Linked DNA regions of Homo sapiens. The protein of the gene in region 2 purifies or fractionates together with the protein of the main gene of each other region. This does not show direct contact. Each region holds a gene or a part of one and is shown on either strand. Other genes may lie near its edges.

Evidence for each region.
Region 1: the proteins of ZNG1B (region 2) and NEK4 purify together in Homo sapiens (affinity purification with mass spectrometry; 2 studies listed by BioGRID and IntAct, with this or other methods). This does not show direct contact.
Region 3: the proteins of ZNG1B (region 2) and CACHD1 purify together in Homo sapiens (affinity purification with mass spectrometry; one large-scale study listed by BioGRID and IntAct). This does not show direct contact.
Region 4: the proteins of ZNG1B (region 2) and OPALIN purify together in Homo sapiens (co-immunoprecipitation; one large-scale study listed by IntAct). This does not show direct contact.
Region 5: the proteins of ZNG1B (region 2) and RIPK4 purify together in Homo sapiens (affinity purification with mass spectrometry, with the first as the bait; one large-scale study listed by BioGRID). This does not show direct contact.
Region 6: the proteins of ZNG1B (region 2) and MORC4 purify together in Homo sapiens (affinity purification with mass spectrometry, with the first as the bait; one large-scale study listed by BioGRID). This does not show direct contact.
Region 7: the proteins of ZNG1B (region 2) and PEAK1 purify together in Homo sapiens (affinity purification with mass spectrometry; one large-scale study listed by BioGRID and IntAct). This does not show direct contact.

Annotation. Positions count from the first base shown.
Region 1 is NC_000003.12:52,750,441-52,753,940, forward strand, and holds part of NEK4 (serine/threonine-protein kinase Nek4), read right to left. Parts: intron 3,459-3,500; exon of another isoform or gene 3,086-3,458; intron 1,897-3,085; coding exon 1,492-1,896; intron 1-1,491. UniProt on the Homo sapiens protein: Protein kinase that seems to act exclusively upon threonine residues. Required for normal entry into proliferative arrest after a limited number of cell divisions, also called replicative senescence.
Region 2 is NC_000002.12:113,458,191-113,461,690, reverse strand, and holds part of ZNG1B (zinc-regulated GTPase metalloprotein activator 1B), read right to left. Parts: intron 1,019-3,500; coding exon 972-1,018; intron 1-971. UniProt on the Homo sapiens protein: Zinc chaperone that directly transfers zinc cofactor to target metalloproteins, thereby activating them.
Region 3 is NC_000001.11:64,676,129-64,679,628, reverse strand, and holds part of CACHD1 (VWFA and cache domain-containing protein 1 isoform 1 precursor), read right to left. Parts: intron 2,735-3,500; coding exon 2,618-2,734; intron 1,471-2,617; coding exon 1,319-1,470; intron 35-1,318; coding exon 1-34. UniProt on the Homo sapiens protein: May regulate voltage-dependent calcium channels.
Region 4 is NC_000010.11:96,345,862-96,349,002, forward strand, and holds part of OPALIN (opalin), read right to left. Parts: intron 2,485-3,141; coding exon 2,428-2,484; intron 257-2,427; coding exon 80-256; 3' UTR 1-79. UniProt on the Homo sapiens protein: Central nervous system-specific myelin protein that increase myelin genes expression during oligodendrocyte differentiation. Promotes oligodendrocyte terminal differentiation.
Region 5 is NC_000021.9:41,750,053-41,753,552, forward strand, and holds part of RIPK4 (receptor-interacting serine/threonine-protein kinase 4), read right to left. Parts: intron 1,194-3,500; coding exon 1,045-1,193; intron 1-1,044.
Region 6 is NC_000023.11:106,986,713-106,990,212, forward strand, and holds part of MORC4 (MORC family CW-type zinc finger protein 4), read right to left. Parts: intron 1-3,500. UniProt on the Homo sapiens protein: Histone methylation reader which binds to non-methylated (H3K4me0), monomethylated (H3K4me1), dimethylated (H3K4me2) and trimethylated (H3K4me3) 'Lys-4' on histone H3. The order of binding preference is H3K4me3 > H3K4me2 > H3K4me1 > H3K4me0.
Region 7 is NC_000015.10:77,109,105-77,112,604, forward strand, and holds part of PEAK1 (inactive tyrosine-protein kinase PEAK1), read right to left. Parts: 3' UTR 1-3,500. UniProt on the Homo sapiens protein: Probable catalytically inactive kinase. Scaffolding protein that regulates the cytoskeleton to control cell spreading and migration by modulating focal adhesion dynamics. Acts as a scaffold for mediating EGFR signaling.

The DNA.
Region 1 (3,500 bases), on a different chromosome or scaffold from region 2:
GGGAGACGGAGGCACGAGAATCATTGAACCCAGGAGGCAGAGGTTATAGTGAGCTGAGATCGTGCCACTGTACTCTAGCCTGGGTGACAGAGTGAGACTCAAACAAACAAAAAATACATATATGTGTGTGTATACACACACATGCACACACACACAGGCACACAAATACAAATACAGTATATTATTTGGCAATAAAAAGGAATGAGGCAGGGTCCAGTGACTCATGCCTATAATCCCAGTACGCTGGGAGGCCAAGTTGGGAGGACTGTCGAGCCCAGGAGTTTGAGACCAGCCTGGGCAACATGGCCATGGCAAGGCCCCATCTCTCTACAAGAAATAGAAATAAAAAAATTAGCAGGGCATGTCTGTGGTCCCAGCTACTCAGGAGGCTGAGGCAGGAGGATCACTTAAGCCCAGGAAGTCAAGGCTGCAGTGAGCTGTGTTTGCACCACTGCACGCTAGCCTGAGCAGCAGAGACCCTGTCTCAAAAAATTAAAAAATGAAATTTTTTTAAAAAAGGAATAAAATGTTGGTACATCCTACATCATAGATAAACCTTGAAAACATCAGGTTAAGTAAAAGAAGGCAGGCCAGGCCCAGTGGCTTATGTCTGTAATCTCAGCACTTTGGGAGGCCAAAGCAGGCTGATCACCTGAGGTCGGGAGTTCGAGACCAGCCTGACCAACATGAAGAAACCCCGTCTGTACTAAAAACACAAAAGTAGCCGGGCATCGGCCGAGTGCGGTGGCTCATGCCTGTAATCCCAGCACTTTGGGAGGCCAAGATGGGCAGATCACGAGGTCAGGAGATCGAGACCATCCTGACTAACACGGTGAAACCTCGTCTCTACTAAAAATACAAAAAAATTAGCCAGGTGTGGTGGTGGGTGCTTGTAGTCCCAGCTACTCGGGAGGCTGACGCAGGAAAATGGTGTGAACCCGGGAGGCGGAGGTTGCAGTGAGCCGAGATCACGCCACTGCACTCCAGCCTGGGCGACAGAGTGGGACTCTGTCTCAAAAAAAAAAAAAAAATTAGCTGGGCGTGGTGGCGCATGCCTGTAATCCCAGCTACTCAGGAGGCTGAGGCATAAGAACTGCTTGAACCCAGGAGGCAGAGGTTGCAGTGAGCCGAGATCGCGCCATTGCAATCCAGCCTGGGAAACAAGAGTGAAACTCTGTCTCAAAAAAAAAAAGAGAAAAAAAGAAGCCAAACACACAAAGCCATAAATTGTATGATTCCATTTATATGAAATCCTCAGAATAGGCAAATCCATAGAGACAAATGTTGCCACGAGTTGTGGGCAAGAGGGAATGGTGAGTGACTGTTATAGGGTACTGGGTTTCTTTTTGGTTTGATGCAAATATTCTTCTATGTTTAAACTGATACATAGAATTACTGATTTTCCTAAAATGACAACAGAACCCACATATTTGTAACTGCACTTTCAGTCTTCTCTCCAAAACCAGTATCTCATGTGTGCATATCACTCACCTGGTCCTTTGGCTTTTGTTCTTTGATTAGGGGCTGCAGAGGCTTCACTGGTTCATTCTTTTCCCCAGTGACAATGTCAGAGGACCACATGGGAATCAGGTTTTCAGGCTGGGCACTGGATTTAGTGTTGTCCTGCAGCATCTCCTCTTCCACTTGAGAAATACTGCATATACCTCCTAACTCATTAGAGGCATCCAAATATCTTGGCTGATTCTCCTGAACAAAGCCATCACTCACTGAATCCCTCCCTTTTGCAGGTAAGATGTCAATATTTACGCTACTGATTGTGGCTAGTTCTGTGGTATTGCTCAAGTCCTGTTTGCAGGTATGGGCTTTCAGACTGGCAGGTGACTTCAAGAGACCAGAGGCCCTGGGTTTCTCCTGGGACAAACATTTGCCTTCACCCTGAATGAAAAGATGTTTGGAAATTATTATAGCACTCCTCATATCTTATACAAAATCAACTCAAAATGCAACAAGAGGTTCCTCAAAAAGTTAAACATAGAATTAACATATGACTCAGCAATTCCACTCCTAAGTATGTAATCCAAGGAACTGAAAGCAGGGATTTAAGTTAAGTATTTGTACACCAATGTTTACAGCAGCTTTATTTAAAATAGTCAAAAGGCGGAAACAACCCAAAAGTCCATCAGCAGATGAAGGGATAAACAAAATGTGGTAAATACTGCCAGGCACGGTGGCTCACACCTGTAATCCCAGCAGTTTGGGAGGCCAAAGCAAGTGAACCACTTGAGGCCAGGAGCTTGAGACCAGCCTGGGCAACATGGTGAAATCCCATCTCTACTAAAAATACAAAAATTAGCCAGGTGTGGTGGTGCATGTCTGTAGTCCCAGTTACCTGGGAGGCTGATGCGGGAGGATTGCTTGAGCCTAGGAGGCGGAGGTTGTAGTGAGCCGAGAGCCCGCCACTGCACTCCAGCCTGGGCAACAGGAGTGAAACCCTGCCTCAAAAAAAAAAAAAAAAAATATATATATATATATACACACACACACACACACACAATGGAATATTTCTAATCTATAAAAAGGAATGAAGTTCTGATACATGCTAAAACACGAATGAACCCTGAAAACATGCTAAGTAAAATAAGCCAGGCCAAGTGTGGTGGCTCACACCTATCATCCCAGCACTTGAGCTCAGGAGTTTGAGACCAGCCTAGGCAACATGGCGAAACCCCATTTCTATAAAAAATACCAAAAAATTAGCTGGGCATGGTGGCAAGTGCCTGTAGTCCCAGCTACTTGGAAGCCTGAGTGGGAGGATTGCTTGAGCCGGGAGGTCAAGGCTGCAGTGAGCCGTGATCACACCACTGCACTCCAGCCTGGTTGACACAGTTGAGATCCTGTCTCAGAAAAGAAAAGAAGTAAGCCAGGACAGGGCAGGGAGCAAGCAGGGGCAGGACTGGCACTGTGGCCAGAGATGCCGCTGGGCCACAAAGGTGATAGGCAGCTGGGAACTCTACATTGAAGGCACAGAGGTGAGGCACAATGCCCGGAAGGCTGGTAAATTGAATGCTGAGGACGGAAGAGTCTGATGACATACTACTGAATTTCTTTGTTTGGAGTACACATTATGTACTCTTTCTGGAGCATGTCTACAAGCTCTACATGGAAACGATCTGAAGCTGAAAACATTGGCAGGGGATGCAAAAACCAGTCTTTGATGAACTATGCCAAAGAAACAGCTGCCTTCTATTCCCAAAAATGCTTTGCCCATAACTAAGCCTACGGAGCCTGTCCCAGCAGCACAGTCAACAAATGGCATGCATGCTTCCTACAGACTCGTCCACCTGAAATACTCTCTTCTTGCTGAATTTACCTTGGTTGCGGAGCAGACGTTATTAGGTGTCTATGTGCAGCCATCTTATCCCTCTGTATTAAAGTGGTTTGGACTAATATTCATAGGGCACAGACTTTATCAAGATGGCATATTTAGGCCAGGCGCGGTGGCTCACACCTATAATCCCAGCACTTTGAGAGTCCGAGGC
Region 2 (3,500 bases):
AAAGAATCCAGTTGACTGAATGCTAGATAACAAAGTAGATGATAATAATCAGAAGCTCTATTTTCTATTAACAGGATAGTAAAACTGGAAATTCTTTCAATTTTCCTCAATTATTCAGGGTCTTATGCTTTATCTCAAAGAATACAACTAAATTCTCAAAACTGAATTCACTTTAGTTCACTGAAAGAGCAGGTTTCAACAGTATGTACATCACAAATCCAATCTGGCTATTTTCTATTTGGCTTATTTATATTTTCTATAATAACCATATTTTCATAAGGAAAAAAGTTACAAAAATACTTAAGTTCAGCCAGGCACAGTGGATTCATGCCTGTAATCCCAGCACTTTGGGAGGCCGAGGCGGGTGGATCACCTGAGGTCAGGAGCTCGAGACCAGCCTGGCCAACATGGTGAAACCCCATCTCTACTAAAAAAAATAAAAATAAAAATAAAAAAATTTAAAAAAAAATGCAAAAATTAGCTGGGCATGGTGGCGGGTGCCTGTAATCCCAGCTACTTGGGAGGCTGAGGCAGGAGAATCGCTTGAACCTGGGAGGCGGAGGTTGCAGTGAGCCTGCACTTCAGCCTGGGTGACAGAGTGAGATTCTGTCTCAAAAAATAATAATAATAATTATTATTATTATACATATATATATATATATAAAATCTTCAATCCCAAAGAAATTGTATAACAAGAAAATATTTTTAAATGTTAATATTTCCCGAGTTCCTCAAAATTACAGAATCCTGTGTTCAGCATTCACTTTATGCTACGACAAAAATGACTTTAAGTAAAAGTTTAGTTATCAGATCATTATAAATAGATAGCAATAATTCAACTAAGGGAAAAAAAGAAAATAAATTTTCGTTGACTATGTTTTAAAATTTCTTAGTTTGTTTTTGGTTTTCATCTTAGTGATTTTTCTCTTTACAATTAGCCAGCAATCAATATATACTTTAAATATGAATACCTAGTAGCTTCATTGATAAGGCCATCAGGTTTCTCTTCTGCTAAATGCTAAACAAAAAAAAGTTTGAATAAAGTTACTATAATACAATAAAAAATCTAATGTCAACACAAAGGATTTTACTTTAGAGACATTTTCTTGCATCTAATAAAAACTTCAACATGTTCTGTTACTGAATACACAAATCCAAAACTAACTTTTCTAGCTAAAAGCATTTTTCTTCCCCATTTGCAATTTTTTTCTACAAGTGAACCTGTGGGGTTTTATAGGGGGAGGAAGAGGGCTTAGGATTTCATACTCCTGACCTTTTCTTTTACTTAAAAGGAAAACCCCTTTGATTCACATAACGTCATAAAAACATAGAAGATTACAGTTCAGATTTTAGGTATTTTCCTTCTTACAAAACTGTTCTGGTTCTAAATATTCATTATTACTTATTTTTAAAAAAGGATAACCACTGAAATATAGTTTCTTAGAATCTAATATACTTCCCTTCACACCAAACCCCCATATTAGAATCTAAAATACTTCCCTACACCCCAGCCCACAATCATGCACCACGTGAACTCAGTACTAGGCCTTTCAAACACCCTAGAAACAAATAAGTGGTGGGAAGGCTGATTCAGCCCTGATTCTAGCCTAAAAGCAGTTTATCATTTAGAAACCCATACTTGCTAATCTGGCCTCTCAGTGCAACTGTTTATTTTACTGACCTCTCCAGAGTCAGGCTAACTCCAAAAAATATTTTGACACTGACTTAGAGCCCAAGTGGTAGTTTTCATCTCTCTGGAGGCAAGCTTTGTTGTCTGTTTTTTTTTTCCCCCTCATAATCCTGTTTACATCCCTAACGTCATCAACATCACAAGCTTCTTCTCTGGGAAATTACACTTTTACCCTCATTACCTCAAACCTCAATAGAGGTTCCCTGTCACAATAAAAAGCTGGCTACTGAGGTTTAGAGGCAACTAGATTATAGTAATACTCTCTATTTGAAGCCAACTTTACAAATGAATTAAATCCTTGAATCTAACTTTATAAATTATATACATTTTTCTCATTTAGCTTTCATAATAATTATGGGAGATGGCTATTTTCATTTATAAAGGAAGAAACTAAATCTAACACCCTCATCATCACAGGATACTATATTTTATATACAATCACAGGGACTTTTTTTTTTAATTGAACACACACCCATCAAGTAAAATGACATAATTTTAAAGTCTTTGTGAAATCTTTTATGCCACATAAAATCAGTCTGTGTACAATGCTACACAAATGTCAATAATCATATATCAGAGCCAAACCAGTTTCATAATACATGGGGAGATGATCATTAGGGGTATCTGAATAGTTTGGAACCTCAGAGCAAGCAGGTAATAATTTTATTTAACAAGCTTGATTAGGTCTATAGAAGAAACATTTTTTCCTTCTAAAAGTTCAGCAAATTCTATTTTGAGGAAAACAAAACTGAAATAAAATCATGGCAATGATACTTCTACTTCAGGCAAAATCTTGTTCAATTCAACTGCAGACCCACTCTGCAATTATGGAAGTCACAGAACTTGACAAGTATTGTATCAAAAATCATTCCATGCCAAAAGACCAAGTTTAATATTTTTTTCATAATTCATCTTGGCCTGAGGCTACAACAAGTCCTATTGTTATATACTCTGCCTCTAGAGAATGAGGCTGCTAACAGACCTTGGAATGGTGCCTGGCACACAGGCTCAAGAAATATTTGTTGAATGAATTGTAATTAACACCTCCTGTTGTGGGGATACATAAAAGATGTTACATGAAAAATGCCATCTAACATGCAGCAACAAATCTCTTCCCATTAAGCAGTAAATCTACTTAACAATGATATATTTTTGGCAAGGCATCTGCCTCTGAATGATCCTATAGTACTGAAAATTCTTTTTAAACTGAAATATTTTTCAAGATATTATATTATTGACCTTATGAAAGCTTTTTTAACATATGAAATTGGGGTTATTTGGCTATGAGTTTGTGAGGCATAAAAATGATATGACAGAAGAATTACAGATTTGTTTTTGCATTTCCATGCCTAAATGTAACTAATACAATGTTAGTTTCACAAGGTAATGTGCAATGTTTTAAATGCATTTACCTCTCCAAAATATTAGAATTCTTCACTCAAAGCTAACAGTGGTAGACTAACGTTTTACTACTTCCAGGCAGTCAGAAAGTATCAAATATAAAAATAAATGAAAATCACCCCAAATGAGAGCCTGCCAATATTTACAGCTGTATTAAAATTATATGTAATCATATACCATTATAGCAGAAGAGATAAATGTCCTCTTCTATGCCCATAGGAAAGCCATACAAACATTTAAAAAATAAGTGCATCTTAACATTTATTTTCTCTAGACATCAGCCCTGCACTTCCCTCATGTGACTTCCTACCTTCCCAAGTCAAACTCTGCAAAAAGTACAAAATCAATGTCTTCTATTCAAAAGAACATTCTCCAATAATACATTATATACCATTTGGTCATTAAGTCA
Region 3 (3,500 bases), on a different chromosome or scaffold from region 2:
CTTTTAATCATGTTTAATGTGATCACCTCATCACCTTCAGTGAAAGAGCAAGAAGATGTTTCTTGTTAAGATTTCCCAAGTGGGGAAGAAAGTAAGGATGGTGAGATGGGAGGGAATACAGTGGGAAGGGGGTTGGCGGAAGATAAACAGATGCTTAGTTAGGCTTTGAGTTCCTCAAACATGACGCATGGGAACGTGGGAGCGGAGGCTACATTTAATTCCTGGTTCTCCAGTGTTGGTTGCTAGGCAGAGCAGGAGCACAAATGGCAAGGACTGCTGGGAAGAGTGAGCAGACCAGAAGAATTGCTTACACAGGCAGCATCCAACACCAACAGAGTCCTAGCTCCCTGGGGTATGAGTTACTCTTGGAAGAGAGGAAAAGTCACCTAGTACAGAGTAACCACTGAAATAAAAGGCACCAGGTCCAATAAATATGCGCTAACCGGATCAAGTTTCGAAGCTTATGGGTTTCCTTTAAAAGGCCATTTGTGCTTTCCAGATAGGAAACTGCAGGTGAGCATAGAAAGTGATTTCTCAGAGCCAAGTCACTTTCACATATGTACCCTCACCTAGTTCAGCAGTAACATACAAGCTCAAAATCCTTCCCCACATATGAGCTTTTCTTCTAGACAGGCTGATGTAAGTGATGTTAAAAATCAAGGTATTAACTAAGGATTTAAATATTTGACTCTACTGCCATCTAAGAATTAGGCCTTGGTGCTAATTCTGGAAAGACTGAAAAAAAAAATCTCAGGTAAGCAATCTAATCTTGGCAGTATTTTTGAGGTCTTGGAGACTGATCCCAGGGGCTGTCCACCCTGTGGTGTCCTTGTGCTTCATCCTAAGCTGTCCCAGATGCACTGGGTAGCTCTGGCTTCTGTTGACTCCAAGGCCCCAAATACTGATTTGTAGCTATAAGACTTCTACCTTGCAAAAGTTGTGAGTGAAGGTTTTAGCAGGCACTAGACATACAGTGGTCACTCCGTACACGGCCCTGTGCTTCTGACAGCTGGCGTGCATATCCAAACAGACTCCAGAGTTTGGCCATGCAGAAACCAGTCCTTATATTTATCAGAACAAGCTTTATGGGAATGAATTCCAGGCTTGTAAAATTTGGCAGCACAGATGGCCACTCACTCTCTCTGCATAGAATATTTAGCCAGTTCTGAAGGTAATTATCTGCCTTGGTTTTGTAACTAAAGACTACCAGCAAAGGAATCAGGGAAGTTGGGAAGAGGATTATTTTAAGATGTCCTAGCATATAGGCAGGAAATTGTATATTCAAGAATCAAATTGTTGGGGCATCTAACAAACATACCTATTGCTCCCATGTCATCAACGTAGGGACTTTTGGCTCCCACAATCCCCCCGAAGCATTCTTTCTGGGGGGCACAGTAGGGTTTGTCCAGGTGAGTCTTTCCATCACTGTCCACCATGCACCATTCACAATCCAGCACCCCAAAACAGTCCCTGCCAGAAAAACAATACTTAGTCTTCTATAAAGCAGTGTGGGGCAGGGGACAGCACTTAAGTGTGGGCATCAGACAGTTCTCAGGATCTCCATTACTTACTAGTGCTGTGAATTTCTTGAGCTTTAGTTTCCTTTCCTTATAAAATGAGAATAGCAATAGACTGCCAGGGAAATAACTGTTTTATGCCTCTTAACAACTTGGAAAGGAGAGAAATAAAACTGCTCTCTGTGAATTAAATAATGACATCCACACATCATGGGGCTATTCAAAATCATCTTACAAGACCAAACAGAAATGACCCCAATGTTTGTTAGACTCTGGCTTAACATCCCCCAAGTGTGGGGTCATTTAAAAAAATAAAAAAAAAAGTCCAATAAGTTTGGAAATACTTGGCCAGTCACCACAGGTTTCCTCACTGCCAATTTCTCAGAGCCTTTAGTGTATTACATGCATTGTGACTGTCTCAAGAGAATATATGCAGTGTCAGCATTTCCCAAACTTAATTGACTTGGGGCTACTGTATAACATCCCAAATTAATCAGTTTGATGCCACAATTCCTTTGCTAAAATACACACGCAAAGCAGAGTAAGCTATCCCTCTAAACACTGTTTAATAAAATGGCAAGCTACAGCTACAATAAGCTAAAAACCAACTCCCCTTTACTTAGTCTACCACAGCCACTATTTCCATAATGTCTAGTCCCAAACTCCTAATCCCACCTGAGGAGTGGGGAGAGAGCGGGGAACATGTAGTTTTTAGTTCTCAAAACTATCATGAAGCAGATGTGTTTCCTAAGAAAGGAAAATAAATGAGCTTCAAAATATCACACCTAGAGCCTTGACCACTGGGTTCTGCTTCTGGACCTCAGGGGTTCCTCCTCCCTTGCCCTGCTGCTTCATGCCATGGCCCCTCACAAGTCTTTTATTTCAAGAAAAACTCCCATTCACAGATGAGGCTACTAACATATGGTACACACGCTAAATACGGGTAATAAGTGGGAACGAGACAACATTTAATCTGGTGGGTAAAGGCTTATGGAAATCAGTTTCAGATCTGAAAAACTGACATACCTTTTTAAAACACGAAGAGTAGGAATAATAAATATTAGCTGGAAAACCTCAATTCTTTACTAGATTCTGCTTACCCACTTTCCAGCCTCTGACTGCACCTGCTGTTGACACACTGGTGAAGAGCATCTTGCAGGCCAGGGTCAATAGCTGTGTATGTCACCGGCTCCTGGTGGACCTCGCAGCTGGGGTTTCTGTGCAGGAGGTAAGTCTGGAGGTTAAGACGACCACCGCCCACATTCCAAACTCATGCTCCTGGTCCTTAACAGCAGTCAGACAGATTTGGGTTTGAATCCTGGCTTTGCCACTTAGTGTGTAACCTTGTATCAATCACTTAACAACTCTGAGCTTCAATTTACTTATCTTTATATACAGTAGAAGTAATACAAATAACCTAGGCAACATGATGAAACCTCATCTCTACGAAAAGTACTACTACAGCAACAAAATTTAGACAGGCTTGGGAATCACATGCCTGCAGTCCCAGCTACGAGGGAGGTAGAAAGGTGGGAGGATTGCTTGAGCTTTGGAGGTAGAGGTTGCAGTGAGCCATGATCGCGCCACTGCACTCCATCCTGAGCAACAGAGTGAGACCATGTCTCAACAAACAATTATACACACACAATACAAACACACATGACACTCTTAATTTCTAGAGAAGGGGTTTATTACAATTTATTTTCCTGGTGTTAAAATCTGTCACTGATATAAATAATGCTGTAGAACACATCATACGTGTGTAAAAAACACTTGCATATTTATCACAGGGTTAATTAGAACACTAAGTGACTTAATGTGCATAACGTACTCAACACATGGTAGACACTTAGTAAATGCTTGAAACATTCTCACATTTTTTTGTATGTAGCACATACACTCTTAATACTTTTACAGCAGTTAAATTTAAACCTTGAAACAGGCATCATTTTATGGCACTACGGAGCTTGAATTCTGGCTCAC
Region 4 (3,141 bases), on a different chromosome or scaffold from region 2:
TCTTTCCTCTCCAAGTACAAAACCCTGGGTTTTCAACCCTGTTCCAGTGCCAGGTCTGCTGCTCCTTGACTGAGCTGCATCATTCCAGGCTCAGTCTGGGCACAAGCCACCACAATCCCCTCCTTCTTTCCATTTCTATAGTAGGACGGTAACGGTCATGCACAGGTTCCTCGCTTCCTGCTACAGTCTTCACATATATGTGGGCCTCTTGTGCTCCCATCGTATTCTTCTCATGTGTGGGTGATCTCCTAGGATTCTTAAGGAAACAAATAGGTTTTTTAAAAACTACAGCAGAGAATTCTTTCATACAAGATGGACTAACAGCAACCACATTGACCCTCCCACCTGAAATAACCAAAATCAGACACAACATTTGAAGCAATAGTTTTCAAGACACTAGACAACAGGCAAGGAGGGACAATGGTCCTGGAGAGACAGAAAACAAATGAGGAGAGACCCACAATTACCTGATCTTACTGCTTTGGGAGAGCTTTCAGGCCACTCAACTATCTTTTGTTTATTGTTAACAAAGTTTCTCATTTTTTGTCTTTTAACTGTTAATCTATTTGTGTATTTATATTTAAAGTGAGTTTTGTAGGCATCATATGATTGGACCTTGTTTTTATAGCCAATGTGAAATCTCTTCCTGTTAATTCGGGTATCTAGACCATTTACATTTAATGTGATCATTGATATGGTTGGGTTTAAATCTACCATCTTGCTATTTGTTTTCTGTTTGTTCTACCTGTTTGTTGTGTCTTTTTAACTCTTTTTCTACTTTATTTCATATAGATTTTAGAAGAACCTCATTAAGTTCCATGAAAAAAATTGATTGGGATTTATATTGAAATTACATCTGTTATATAGATCAACATTGTTTGACATCGTTATGTTATTAACACTTTCTATCCAGGAGCATAGTATGCAACCCCCATTATTTAGGTATTATTTAATGGGTTTTTTAACCAAAGTTTTATTATTTTCCATAAAGGTATTACATATTTTTGTTAGATTTATTCCATAGCATTCTACATATTTTAATACCAATTACCATCACAAATGGTAATTTTTAAAATCACTTTTTCTAATTGTTGTTGATGTTGAAAGTATAAATTACTTTTATATATTGATTTTTGTATCCAGTAAACTTGTTAAAATTTCTTGTTAATTCAAGTAATTTTTCTGTAGATTTAGCTTTTCTTTTCTTTCTTTCTTTCTTCCTTTCTTTCTTTTTTTTTTCTTTTTTTAAGATGAAGTCTCACTCTTGTCCCCCAGGCTGGAGTGTGATGGTGTGATCTCAGCTCACTGCAACCTCTGCCTCCCAGGTTCAAGTGATTCTCCTGCTTCAGCCCCCCACGAAGTAGCTGGGATTACAGGCACCTGCCACCACACCTGGCTAACTTTTGTGTTTTTAGTAGAGATGGGGTTCACCATGTTGGCCAGGCTGGTCTAGAACTCCTGACCTCAGGTGATCCACCTGCCTTGGCCTCCCAAAGTGCTGAGATTACAGGCGTGAGCCACCGCACCCAGCCAGATTTAGCTTTTCTATGTCGACAATCATACCATCTGCAAATAATGACAATTTTGTTTCTTCCTTTTCAGTGTTACACTTTCTAATTTTTTTTTTTGAGATGGAGTCTTGCTCTTGTCACCCGGCTGGAGTGCAGTGGTGCGATCTCAGCTCACTGCAACCTCCACCTACCAGGTTCAAGCGATTCTCTTCCCTCAGCCTCCCGAGTAGCTGGGATTACAGACGACCGCCACCACACCCAGCTAATTTTTTGTATTTTTAGTAGACACAGGGTTTCACCATGTTGGCCAGGCTGGTCTCAAACTCCTGACCTCAGATGATTCACCCGCCTCAGCCTCCCAAAATGCTGGGATTACAGGCGTGAGCCACTGCACCGGACCTATACTTTCTAATTTTTAAAAATCCTACTTCATTGACTAGGATCTAAAGTATAATATTGAATAGAAGTGGTGTTAGTGAAGATCCTTGTTTTATTTCTGATCTAAAGAGAATGCTTTCAACATTTTACTGTTAGGTATGATGTTAGCTGTAATTTTTTGAAAAAGACATCTTTCAAGTCAAGGAAGTTCCCATTCTATTTTTAATTTGCTGAGAGTTCATATCACTGTTAAGTTTTTTTGAACTTTCTTCCCCTATTGAGATGGTCACATGAGTTTTCCATTTTAGTTTGTCAGTAAAATAAATTATATTAAATTGATTGTCTAATATTAAAGGGAGCTTGAATTTCTGTTCAGCCAATAAAAATGCACTGAGAACCTCCTTTGTGCTTGAGCTTCCTCTTGGTCATCTCTTTTCTACATGTGCTCATACTGTGCTTCTTTTGGTGAAAGGCTTTCAAACACTTAGCTTGTTTACTGTGTGAATGGTATATAGAGAGTATAACCAAGAGTTCTTACCTCAGATATCTTGGGATTGTCATCAATTTCTGAAATTTCACATGGTCTGTCACTTTCCTAAATTGGAAAAAATATAATAATAAAAGAAAGAAAGAAGAAGAAGTGAAGGGTTATAGCATTTGACCGTAACTATGATTAAAATCAGTGCTTTTTAAATCTGAGTGTACATTAAAACAAACAAAACAAGCACAGAGGCATCTAATAACATCACCCCTCAAACCAAACCAAACCCATACCTAAGCCAAGAAATATCATTGTGAGTTATCAAAAATAATCCAGGGTGAGAGTAGAGATGAAACAATATTGGCCATGGGTTAATAATTGGGTTCATTATACTATCCTCTCTACTTTAGTATATGTTTGAAATTATAATTAAAAAATTGTTTTTGTTTTTTCAAGATCAGTGCCACAGCTTTGTCATCCAGAAATTCTGATTTAATTGGCTTTGGTGATTGGAAATTTTGAGCTTCCTAAATAATTTTAAAGTGCACTGGAGGTTGAGAAACTATTACTTAAACAATACCACCACTAACCACAATACTTCTTGATGTGTTTAAAATTTACAGCTTGTCAACACATCTTTACATGTAAAAATGTTCATCATCCATTATCTCATTTCATCCTTATAACTTTCCCTACCTCTTAAAATAGGGAGGGTAGTTTCTATGACTCCTATTTTGGAGTTGAACTAACCAAGACATATTAAATGTTAAG
Region 5 (3,500 bases), on a different chromosome or scaffold from region 2:
AGAGGATCTCAATCTCCCCAAACTCTACAAGCTGTGACTAGTCTCCAAAGTGACACTTCCAGGCAACTCTCAGCTTAAAGCCCCAGCTAAGCACATGCACAATGGCCACTGTCAAACCAGTCAGCCTGGGCTGCTGGCGGCGGCAGTGACCAAAAGGCAGAGCTCACATGCGGGGTCCGAGTCACAGTGCTGCTGGATAACAGCCACAATGGGAGGCTTAGTGCCTGCTCACACGCTCCCACCCACTTTTCTTCTCCAAGAAGTCTGTGTGATTAAGACCTTTACAATTTGAAAAAGGAAGGGACTAGGTGACTTGGGGATTGATCTCTGACCAACAAAGGTTAAGTGCCATGAAGAAGATGAGCTGCTCGCCTCACAAAATCAGAGTGAATTTCGGAAAGTACAAACACACATGCGTACAGACCACTGAAAGCAGCAGGTTCTTCCAACAGACAAGCCATAAAGCCCACGGGTCATGAAATCACCAAGGCTCTGACAGGGCAGGGCTGTCAGCCTGGCCCAAATGTGGACCTGGGAACACCCTTCCTCCTTGGCTAGCAACACTCACAGCAAAGAAATCCCTGAACTCTACAAGCACCCACCCCTTCTATGTGGACTTAGCCCCCTTTCTGTTTGTTTGTTTTTTAGACAGGGTCGCGCTCTGTTGCCCAGGCTGGAATGCAGTGGTGCAATCATGACTTACTGCAATCTCCACCTCCCGGGCTCAAGCAATCCCCCAACCTCAGTCCCGAGTAGCTGGGACTACAGGTGCACGCCACCAAGCTGGGCTAATTTTTGTATTTTTTGTAGAGATGAGGTTTCACCATGTTGCCCAGGCTGGTCTCAAACTCCTGGGCTCAAGTAATCCTCCTGCCTCGGCCTCCCGCAGTGCTGGGATTACAGGCGTGAGTCACCGCGCCTGGCCCGAGCCCCATTTCTGACTGGCAGCAAGAGGCCTTTCTGAAAGCTGCAGCTCAGGGCATGAAGCATTGAGGTTGAGAGCCCCTGGCACCCACAGGGGATGGGGGGCGGCATGTCACACACCTGTATACATCGTGCTTGGTGTCGAAGAGCCGGCTCTTCTCCCTGATGCGCTCTGGAGGGAGGTAGGCGATTGTGCCAAACAGGCCATCCATGCTGAGGTCATGCGAGTGGGACAGCCCGTTGCACTTGGCCAGACCAAAATCAGAAATCTGCAACACAGCCATCAGAGCGGGGCTCATTAGCCTGCAACAGTGATATTTTATGATGCTTTATCAAAAGCTCCCTTCTGCAATCTCAGAGGGTGGGTGAGAGCTTTCCAGGAGCCCCTAAGAGCCGTGTCTGTGCCTCTCCAGGTAGCCCTGCCCCAGGCAGGGAGGGAGACAGATTCTGGGGCAGAAGCAAGCCTGGAGGCATTAGGAGCAGCACATTTGACGGGCAGGTGAAAGAATCGTACTGTAAGGAAGGAGTTATCCGGGACAGAACTGCAGAAGAATTAGAATCCACCTTCTGTAAAGCATCATGTTTGCCATGGTGGTTGAGAGCCGGCTGAGCCGGCATAAAGGGAAAAAAACAAGCCTTCGAGGGTTCAGGTAAAGAGAGACACATGTGAAGACCAGGTCTGCTCCTAGAGAAGTCGGGGAGCAGGTTATGCAACCTGCCAGCTGGGGAGGCTGGCGGGCAAGTGGCTGCAAGTCCTTTAAAGGGAAACACAGAAACACACCTTCAGAAGCCCTTTAAACTTTAAAGCAAACAAAACACACGCCTCAGAGCCCCGTCCATCTGGAGTGTTTTGTGATCAGCAGACACTGGCTGGCTGCTTCAAACACATGTGTTCGAGTGAAGGTCTGATAAACACCTCTGCTGGCAGCGCCCGGGCCCCAAGGAGCACCGGCCACCCAGCTCCTCCAGGAATGCCCTCAACGTCCGCATTCAGGGGAGGCAGGTCTCAGGTCTCCTTCGGGCAAAGGTGACCTTGGAGCTCACTGGGGAGACTTCACAGACCCCCGGTCTGACCTCTCTCGGGGGCATCCCCTTTCCTGCCAGTGTCCTACCCTCTCCAGTGTAACTCAGTCCCCTTTGAAGCTGCTGAAAACCGTATGTGGGATGAAGACACAAGTCATCAGCATTAATGGGACTCTTGATCCAGGGGGAGTGCTGCTCTCAACTTTCCTTCAAGGCATATGGATTTTTTTAAAAACCCTTTTCATTAACTCTTGAGCTCCTCTCAAACACACCCATGGAGTGACAGGAAATGAGGCTGAGTCAGGCCTTAATTCTGGGCTGGCCATGCCCATGTGGTGAGCCAATAGGGCTGCTGTCATCAGCACCAAACAGCTGGGAGAATTTATGACCTGTGACTCGGGCTTCCAGGGATCCTGAGCACATCTGCAGGGAGGTAGGGGGGAAGGCCTGCGAGCAGGGACCGGCCCTCCTTCTCTGCAGCCAGGAGCACCAGGACAAGGCCTCGACTCCAGCGGCTCTCATGTCCTCCCACTTCCATTTCTCCCAGGGCCTTCAGGCCTGCACCGCCCTTGAGAGCCACACTCTGCACTCCAGGGAAAGCGCCAGCTCCCCAGAGGAACGCCATCACCCGACCCTGCAAACCCCGGCGGCTGCTGGACGCTGGGACACAACAACGGGTCCTAACTCTCCAAATAGCTCCAGAGCACAGGAAGTTTCAGTTCAACAGTCATCAGTGGCTTGAAAGCCTTCAAATTCAGAAATGGGCTGAACAATGAGAACACATGGACAGAGGGAGGGGAACATCACACGCCGGGCCCTGTCGGTGCGTAGGGGAAGAGGGAAGGGAGAGCATTAGGACAAACACCTAATGCATGCGGGTCTTAAAACCTAGGTGATAACCTAGATGGTGGATGGGTGCAGCAAACCACCATGGCACATATAAACCTATGTAACAAACTGGCACATTCTGCACATGTATCCCGGAACTAAAAGTAAAATAAAAAATAATAATAAAAATAAAGAAAGCATCACATACTTTCTAGGCAATTCCTCCTCCCCCTGTATGGTTGAATGTAGGAAAAAAATATCTCCCTCCCACGGTTAGTTAAGGATCAGACTCACTGTTCTAATCTTGCCTGTACAAGTTAGTAGCTCCGTGGCCCTGGACTATTAGCCTCTCTGTGCCTGTTTCCTTTTTTCATAAAAGGAGGCAATAGCAGTACCCATCCTGTAGCTTTGTTGTGAAAATTAAATGACATCTGAGATCATTAAGAAAGAAAAGAAAAGAAAAGAAAAACGACAGGGGTGCAGAGATCTCAGCCTGGTGCTTCCCCAGGCCTGCAGCCTTTTCTCCTCCTGTCTTTGTCAGATAGAGCCAGCCACTCCAAACTATACTTGGTGAAAAGAAAACGAGCAGAAATTCTCTGTAAAACCTCTGGCAACAAAATGCAAGCTCGGAATTGAGAATTCTAGGAGGGTCACTGACCCTCTATGTTCTCCTCCCTCCATGTCTCGGACTCCTGGCCGGCTGCATTTCCCCTCCGCCTTTCCTC
Region 6 (3,500 bases), on a different chromosome or scaffold from region 2:
TGACAATTTCAACTCTCCACTCAAAGGATAACCCTTCCAATTCTTAGTCTCTGTTCCATCTGCTGGGACAGTTCATTGGAATGTGGCCAAAGGATAAAAATAGGTAGTTCTGCCTCTGAATATCAGCAAACAGTTGCAGTATAAAGTCTCTCTTGCTCCATTAAGGACCTTTCACTTAGGCGCCTCAACAATCTCTGTAGCCCCTTTTGATCAGCTTAATCTGGAAGCCAGAACCTTTCCCTTCCTTGTATTTTCCATTCAGGTACACACCAAAATAACAGAACTTTAAAAATTAAAAATAAAATGATTATATATCTTCCCTCACCATCAATAAAACTAATTGTAAGGATTGTTTCTCAGGATGAGAAGGAGAAATGAATAGAGTTTGGCAAATGAGTACAAACTTATAGTTAGATAGAAGAAAAAAGTTCTAATGTTCCATAGCAGACCAGGGTGACTATAATTAGCAATAATACATCACATATTTCAAAGTAGCTAGAAAAGAGGAGTTCCAATGTTACCAACATATAAATTATCAAGGTGATGGAAACCCCAAACACCCTCACTTGATCATTACACATTGTATGCATGTATAAAGTACTCACATGTACCCCATAAATATGTAAAATATTAGGTATCAATAAAAGAAAAAATCATACTAAAAAGGATTGTTTCTCTCCAGATTGACTAATTTTACAATGTTGTGCACTATCATTCATTCAATAAATATTTAAACTAAGCACCTACAATGTGCCAAGCATTGGGCTAAGCACTAGAGACCATTTTTAATAAGAGACATGATTCTTGCCTTCAGAGTTTATAGTCTAAGGAAGGACTTCATATATTACAGATTAGGTGCTTCTCAACATCAATAAAATAGATACTCTGGTCAGACCATGACTGAGCAGGCTGATCTTTAACAATTTTACTCTTTTGAGCATGGAGAGCGGAGGTATCTGATTTCTACTTCCTGAAGATTGCGGTTTTGTGTTTACTCACTAAGAAAGGGAACCACCTTTTAATTTTCTGTTTCAAAGCATTATACAATAATACCATATGTCCTCCTAGAGTAGATACTTTATAGGAGCTGTGTGTATCCTACAAATAAATCTAGTGACAGAAAAAGGTAATTTCCATGGCAGCAGTCCTTTGGGAAAAAAAAAAAGAAAAAGAACTTCAGTTTGTGTTGCCTATGGGCCTTAGTATTCCAGGATACAGACTTATAATAGTAAGATTCAGGCATTCCCATTTTTCTTGTGGAAGAATTGGCTTTTAAAAAAAATGGGTTTGTTATGAGGATTAAATTATATACTGTATGCAAAATACATTAAGTATAAAGTAGTATTCAAACATTAATTTTAAACTAACTCTAGAAGTCATTCTGATAGTTGTCATGTGCTATCCCCTACTCCTACTTCAGACCTAAGGTCACATCTAAAGCTCAGGGCTCTTCATAAATAGTAATCTTACACATCACTTCAAATGAATTTGTATCGTTAACCGGACTTCAACTTTCTCTTATACCACAAAAGCTTCAATTAGGTGATCAAGGGAAAGTGGTGAAAATAGGGAGATTACAACTCCCTTAATTTTTTAGCCTCTTCCACCATCTATCACCTCTTTTCCCCTTTGAAAGTATAAACCCTCACTGTGTTAATTTGAGGAGACCAAATTATGATACAAGGTTGAGAAGATAAGTAGTAGTGCCAGGCCAGAACCAGAATGGAAAAGGATAAGAATAACGAGAAGAGAGGAGCTATAAACTCTGGATTTTTGTTGTTGTTACTGTGTTTCACTTAACTCTTCCCGTGTGCTCTTTTATTCCACCTAAGTTCTCATGTTCGGCATTCTATTTAAATGCAAACTGGCAGAATCAATGTCAGGTACCAATCAAATAACTACCTAACACAAAAGCCCTCACCACACATAATAATAGAATTGTAATAATGAATTTGATAGTTTGCTATAGCTCAGTAATAATTTTCCACAGAGATAACTTGGTTTAGGTGGTTTCTATTTGCTAAGTCAGTCCTGCTCTATCCTCTCGTGTGAGAGACAACACTGTTTACACATCAAGGTGGCTTGGATACCAGCACTTTTAGTGGAATCCAAAAATACAGCAGCTTGCTCTGGAGTATCTTAAAATGTCAAGAATCCAGAATCCAGAGAGGTAAATTTAAATTGGGACTCTGCCATGACACGTGTTTACCTATGTAACAAACCTTCACGTGTACCTCCAAACCAAAAATAAAAGTTAAGAAAAATAATAAATAAGTAAAGACTCTGACCAATGAAACAAACCTTGGCAAAATCCATGGGTGCACAAAGGCAGGCACTGCTATTTCCTAGGTATACTTGTGATTTAATATGTAATATAAAAGAATGAAAGAGTGCTAAGCAGACTGTTATTCTCCAGCTATTGTTTTAGAAGAATACACCTGCTAGGAAGTGCACTTCTGAGCACAGGTAGCAAATACCTTCTGTGGTTCTGTGGCTGTTTTTAGTCTTTGAACTTTGAAAGAGGTTTTCCACCTTGCTGAAAAAGGCAGCTGAATATACAGACTAACTGATCCACACACTAGCCCCAGAAGCTAAAGATAATTAGTTGTGGACCTTAAAGGAATTTAATAATAGGTTTTTCCTTTTTAATTTGATTTTCATGAAAGTCTATGTTTATGGAAGAAACTGTTGCTACAGTTACACAACTATTTTATCAGCCTGAAAATAGAGTTGCATAAAGAGTTGGAAAGTGTGGACAGTGTAACAACAAATGTTAGAGGTCAAATAGAACTTCTGTAGGCTTAATAAATTTGTATAATTACTTCTATTATTTTTTCCAAATACAAAAGTAATATGCCTTCAAGTAGAAAACAGCACCAGGCACGGTGGCTCATGCCTGTAATCCCAGCACTTTGGGAGGCCGAGGCAGGCGGATCACTTCAGTTAGGGAGTTCAAGACCAGCTGACCAACATGGTGAAACCCCGTCTCTACTAAAAATACAAAATTAGCCAGGCATGGTGGCGCATGCCTGTAATCCCAGCTACTCGGGAGGCTGAGGTAGGAGAATCACTTGAATCCGGGAGGCGGAGGTTGCAGTGAGCCAAGATCACACCATTGCACTCCAGCCTGGGCAACAAGAGTGAAACTCCATCCAAAAAAAAAAAAAAAACCCAGAAAACATAGAATCCTTCGGGCCAGGCGTGGTGGCTCATGCCTGTAATCCCAGCATTTTGGGAGCCCGAGGCAGGTGAATCACAAGGTCAAGGGATGGAGACCATCCTGGCTGCCAACATGGTAAAACCCCGTCTCTACTAAAACTACAAAAATTAGCTGGGTATGGTGGCGCACACCTGTAGTCCCAGCTACTCGGGAGGCTGAGGCAGGAAAATTGCTTGAACCCAGGAGGCGGAGGTTGCAGTGAGCCGAGATCGCGCCACTGCACTCCAGCCTGGCGACAGAGCAAAACTCCATCTAATAAAAAAAAAAATAGAATCCTTTG
Region 7 (3,500 bases), on a different chromosome or scaffold from region 2:
ACAATTACAATTTGTTAAGAAATTTCCCAAGAGTTCTTTAAACAAACCTATTTAAACTACCATATCTCTTTAAAAAAATCTTCCGCTCTCAGTATTATATGATGTTCTCAAGCTGAGGTTTGGGCAATAGCCACAGTCATGTCAAGGGGACATGGAAGAGATCCTTCTCCTTAAATACTGAGGAACTTTGTATCTGCCAGGGCTTTCTTCATCTTCATCATCATCATCATCTTCTAATATACAAAATGGACTTCTTTTTAAAAAGGTGCTTTTCTGAGGATGGATTTATCAGCTAAATGCCTTGACATGGAATGTATGTGAACTCCCCTCCCACAGCATCTGTCACAGCTCACCCTCATCATCTTAGAAGCATCAGGATAAAAAGGCTTGATTTCTTTGGTATAATCTCTCCCAGGATCTTGCACTGCAACTCTTCTGGCTTCCCTTATGGCACCGTTTTTGGTCCATGGAATCCCCACTTTTGGCACTGCTGTAAGCACGGACAGCTGGACTTCAGTGCGCACTTCAGCAAGAGCAGCACTTGGATTTGTCTCGGCACAGCACTTTGGGCCTTTGAGAATATGAGCTTCGATGACATAAAGCTAATAACTTGGTTTTGTGGGCAGCCATCCTGTTCACTCATTAGGCTGGAGCGGAATTTTCAATCCTTGTCAACTAGTGAGGAGAATGAAAAACATGCCAGGGTTGGCCCAGCAAGTCCAGTTTGTCTCACCCCTCTCCAAGAATGTTCATACTATATTTACACATCTAGAATCATTTGAAATATAGTGTAGTATCCTAAATCCATCTCTATTTCTGTGACTAGCCTGTACTTTTTCAGATCACTGCTGGTAAAATCTAGAAGAAATCCTAATTGCAGTCAAATCTAGCGAAAACCCTAATTCCAGCAAAACCAAATGTCAGGTTACTTCCCTGAACCAAAGTATTCATAACTCAAAATTGAGACGCTTAGTAGGACCCAAAGATCTTTCCTGGAAACTTTTTTTTGAGACGAAGTTGCTCAATCTCCCAGGCTGGAGTGCGATGGCGTGATCTTGGCTCACTGCAACCTTTGCCTCCTGGGTTCAAGAGATTCTCTTGCCTCAGCCTCCCGAGTAGCTTAGATTACAGGTGCCTGCCATCATGCCCGGCTAATTTTTGTATTTTTAGTAGAGATGGAGTTTCACCATGTTGGCCAGGCTGGTCTCAAACTCCTGACCTCAGGTGATCTGCCCACCTCGCCCTCCTAAAGTGTTGGGATTACAGGCGTGAGCCACTGCGCCTGGCCTGGGAACTTCATACTACTAGAAACTTTTAAGATATAATTTTTAGTAGTTTTACTCCCAGAAATGTCATTAATATTTCTAGAGCTTTAGATCTCTTGGCTTAGACTTTCCCATGTTTACAAACTTATTCTGAGTTTGGAAGCAAAAGTGACCCCCACTTAATCTGATAATGGGAGGCTACTCCAACTGTTAAAATCCTAACCAATATGTTTTACTTCTAGCTCCTCAACAGCAGCAGGGTAGGTAGGATGAGTGCTTGTGCCCTCACCTCAACCCATACCTCACCCAGTTCATCTTCTGAGGGCAAATCTTGAAACTCATTGCCATATTCCTGGCTTCCAGTTCTAGCTCAGCCTAGGGGTTGGTGATTCTTACGTTGTTGTTCCACAGGTTACAGTGACTCTTTTTCTCATCCTGCTGTTATTCTTCATGAATTGGCTTCTAGGCAACCCAGTAGTGTACATATACCAAAAGGGCTCACCTCAGCCAGCACAGGAGGCTTCTTGAAGTTCTAGTCCTCTTTATGAAACATCCACTGAATTGCTTCCAAGACTAGGTTACCACTCTAACAAGGCACTCTGCTATACATTCAGTCTTGCTCTTGGCTACTTTAGCCACTGTTGTGTTTCTCTAGCACCCAAGTGTCACAGAGATTGTTCATGCTCATGTGGCTTAAGGAAAAGTTCCAATAGGAGCTTAATTGTTCAAACTCTCAATATAAATGGAAAACTCTACAGTATAGACTTCAATAGAAAACAATTTCCAATCAATATTGAAGGCAATAACTTCCTGTTACTTGAGAAAATGTAAAGTGCTATACTAGTCACAATTCAAACACATAGATATATAAATGTGTGTGTATGTGTCTACAGAGGGTAGGATTTCTTTCCAGTTGATGAACAAATTCAAAGGTCCTACCACAATTAAAATGAAAAATATTTGTGATAATGTTAAACTGACTGAATTTCATTTTTTTGGAAAAATATTCTGAAGACCAACTCATGTAGTACTTTTTGCCTAGAAATATAGTTTCTTTCTCTATTCTGCTCTAACCTGTAACACCCCCTTCCCTCTCTATCTCACATTCTTTGGCCATCACCCAGAGAAAAATTAATCTAGCCACCTGTCTCTGGGAAGCCTGAGGCTTTTCTCTGGCTAGTTTGCATTCATCTTTTGCCCTTAACAAATCTGAATATAAAAACAGTACTAAAAACATCTGATATGAAGAGGTGCTTGGTTTACCAGTGCTGTAAGATAATGGTAGTGGAGGTGTCCATGCTTATTATACCATAGAGTTAAAGTGAAGACTGGATCCAAATCATAACAGAAAAAGAGAAAGAAAAAAAAAGATAAGTAGAGACATAACAAATAGAGGGACCAGGAAACATTCAGCATTAAATATGTAACCTCATTAAATAGTCAACATTGAAATTTACATGGGCAAGGCACCACGAACATGACATTGAGAAGGTATATCTCAATATGCAAGACATTGCAAGATGGGAGGTGGGGGAGGTTAAGGGAATGTGCTGGCTGACATGGTCAGTGGTCTGTGTGCTGCCCTTCAGTGCATAATCAGGCAAGGAGTTATGTGCACATGTTCTATGCTAAGATGAACCAAACACCAACCTTCAAGGCAAGGCGCGGCCATGCCACAGGACACCAAGAGCAGACTGCTGGCCTGCAGCAGCATGCCCACTCCATGGCCATTCCTAGGAGCAGAGCCCTGCACTCTGGCTAGAGGAGGCAAGACTCTTTGTGGGCTAACCAGCCTTCTTTCCTGTGAGTCCTATATTGCTGGCCAGGGGATAAGGGACATTCTCCAAATAGAGCCTCACATATTACAATCACTTAAAAAAGTAATAAGAGCACAATAAAATACATTATTTTCCTTTCCTGATCCTCTTTGTTATACATGAATCACATGAAAAGCTGTTAAAAATGTTAAAAGTTTAGAAATTTCCAAGGCCACTAATGTGCTATGTAAGTAATACTGCACAGTCAGTCTTGGCTTTAAGGAAACTCTGCACTGGTAGATGAGGGGCCTCAGGGCTCACTCACTCACTAGGCACAGAGAACATGTCTGTCAACCCTGCCACAGGTTGCTTTTCTAGAGGCCTGGCCTCTACTTCCAGCATGCGTGTGCACGCACACATGGGCACACAAGTGTACACACACATTGTTCGAGTGACTCTTGGGATTTCAAGGTCAAAG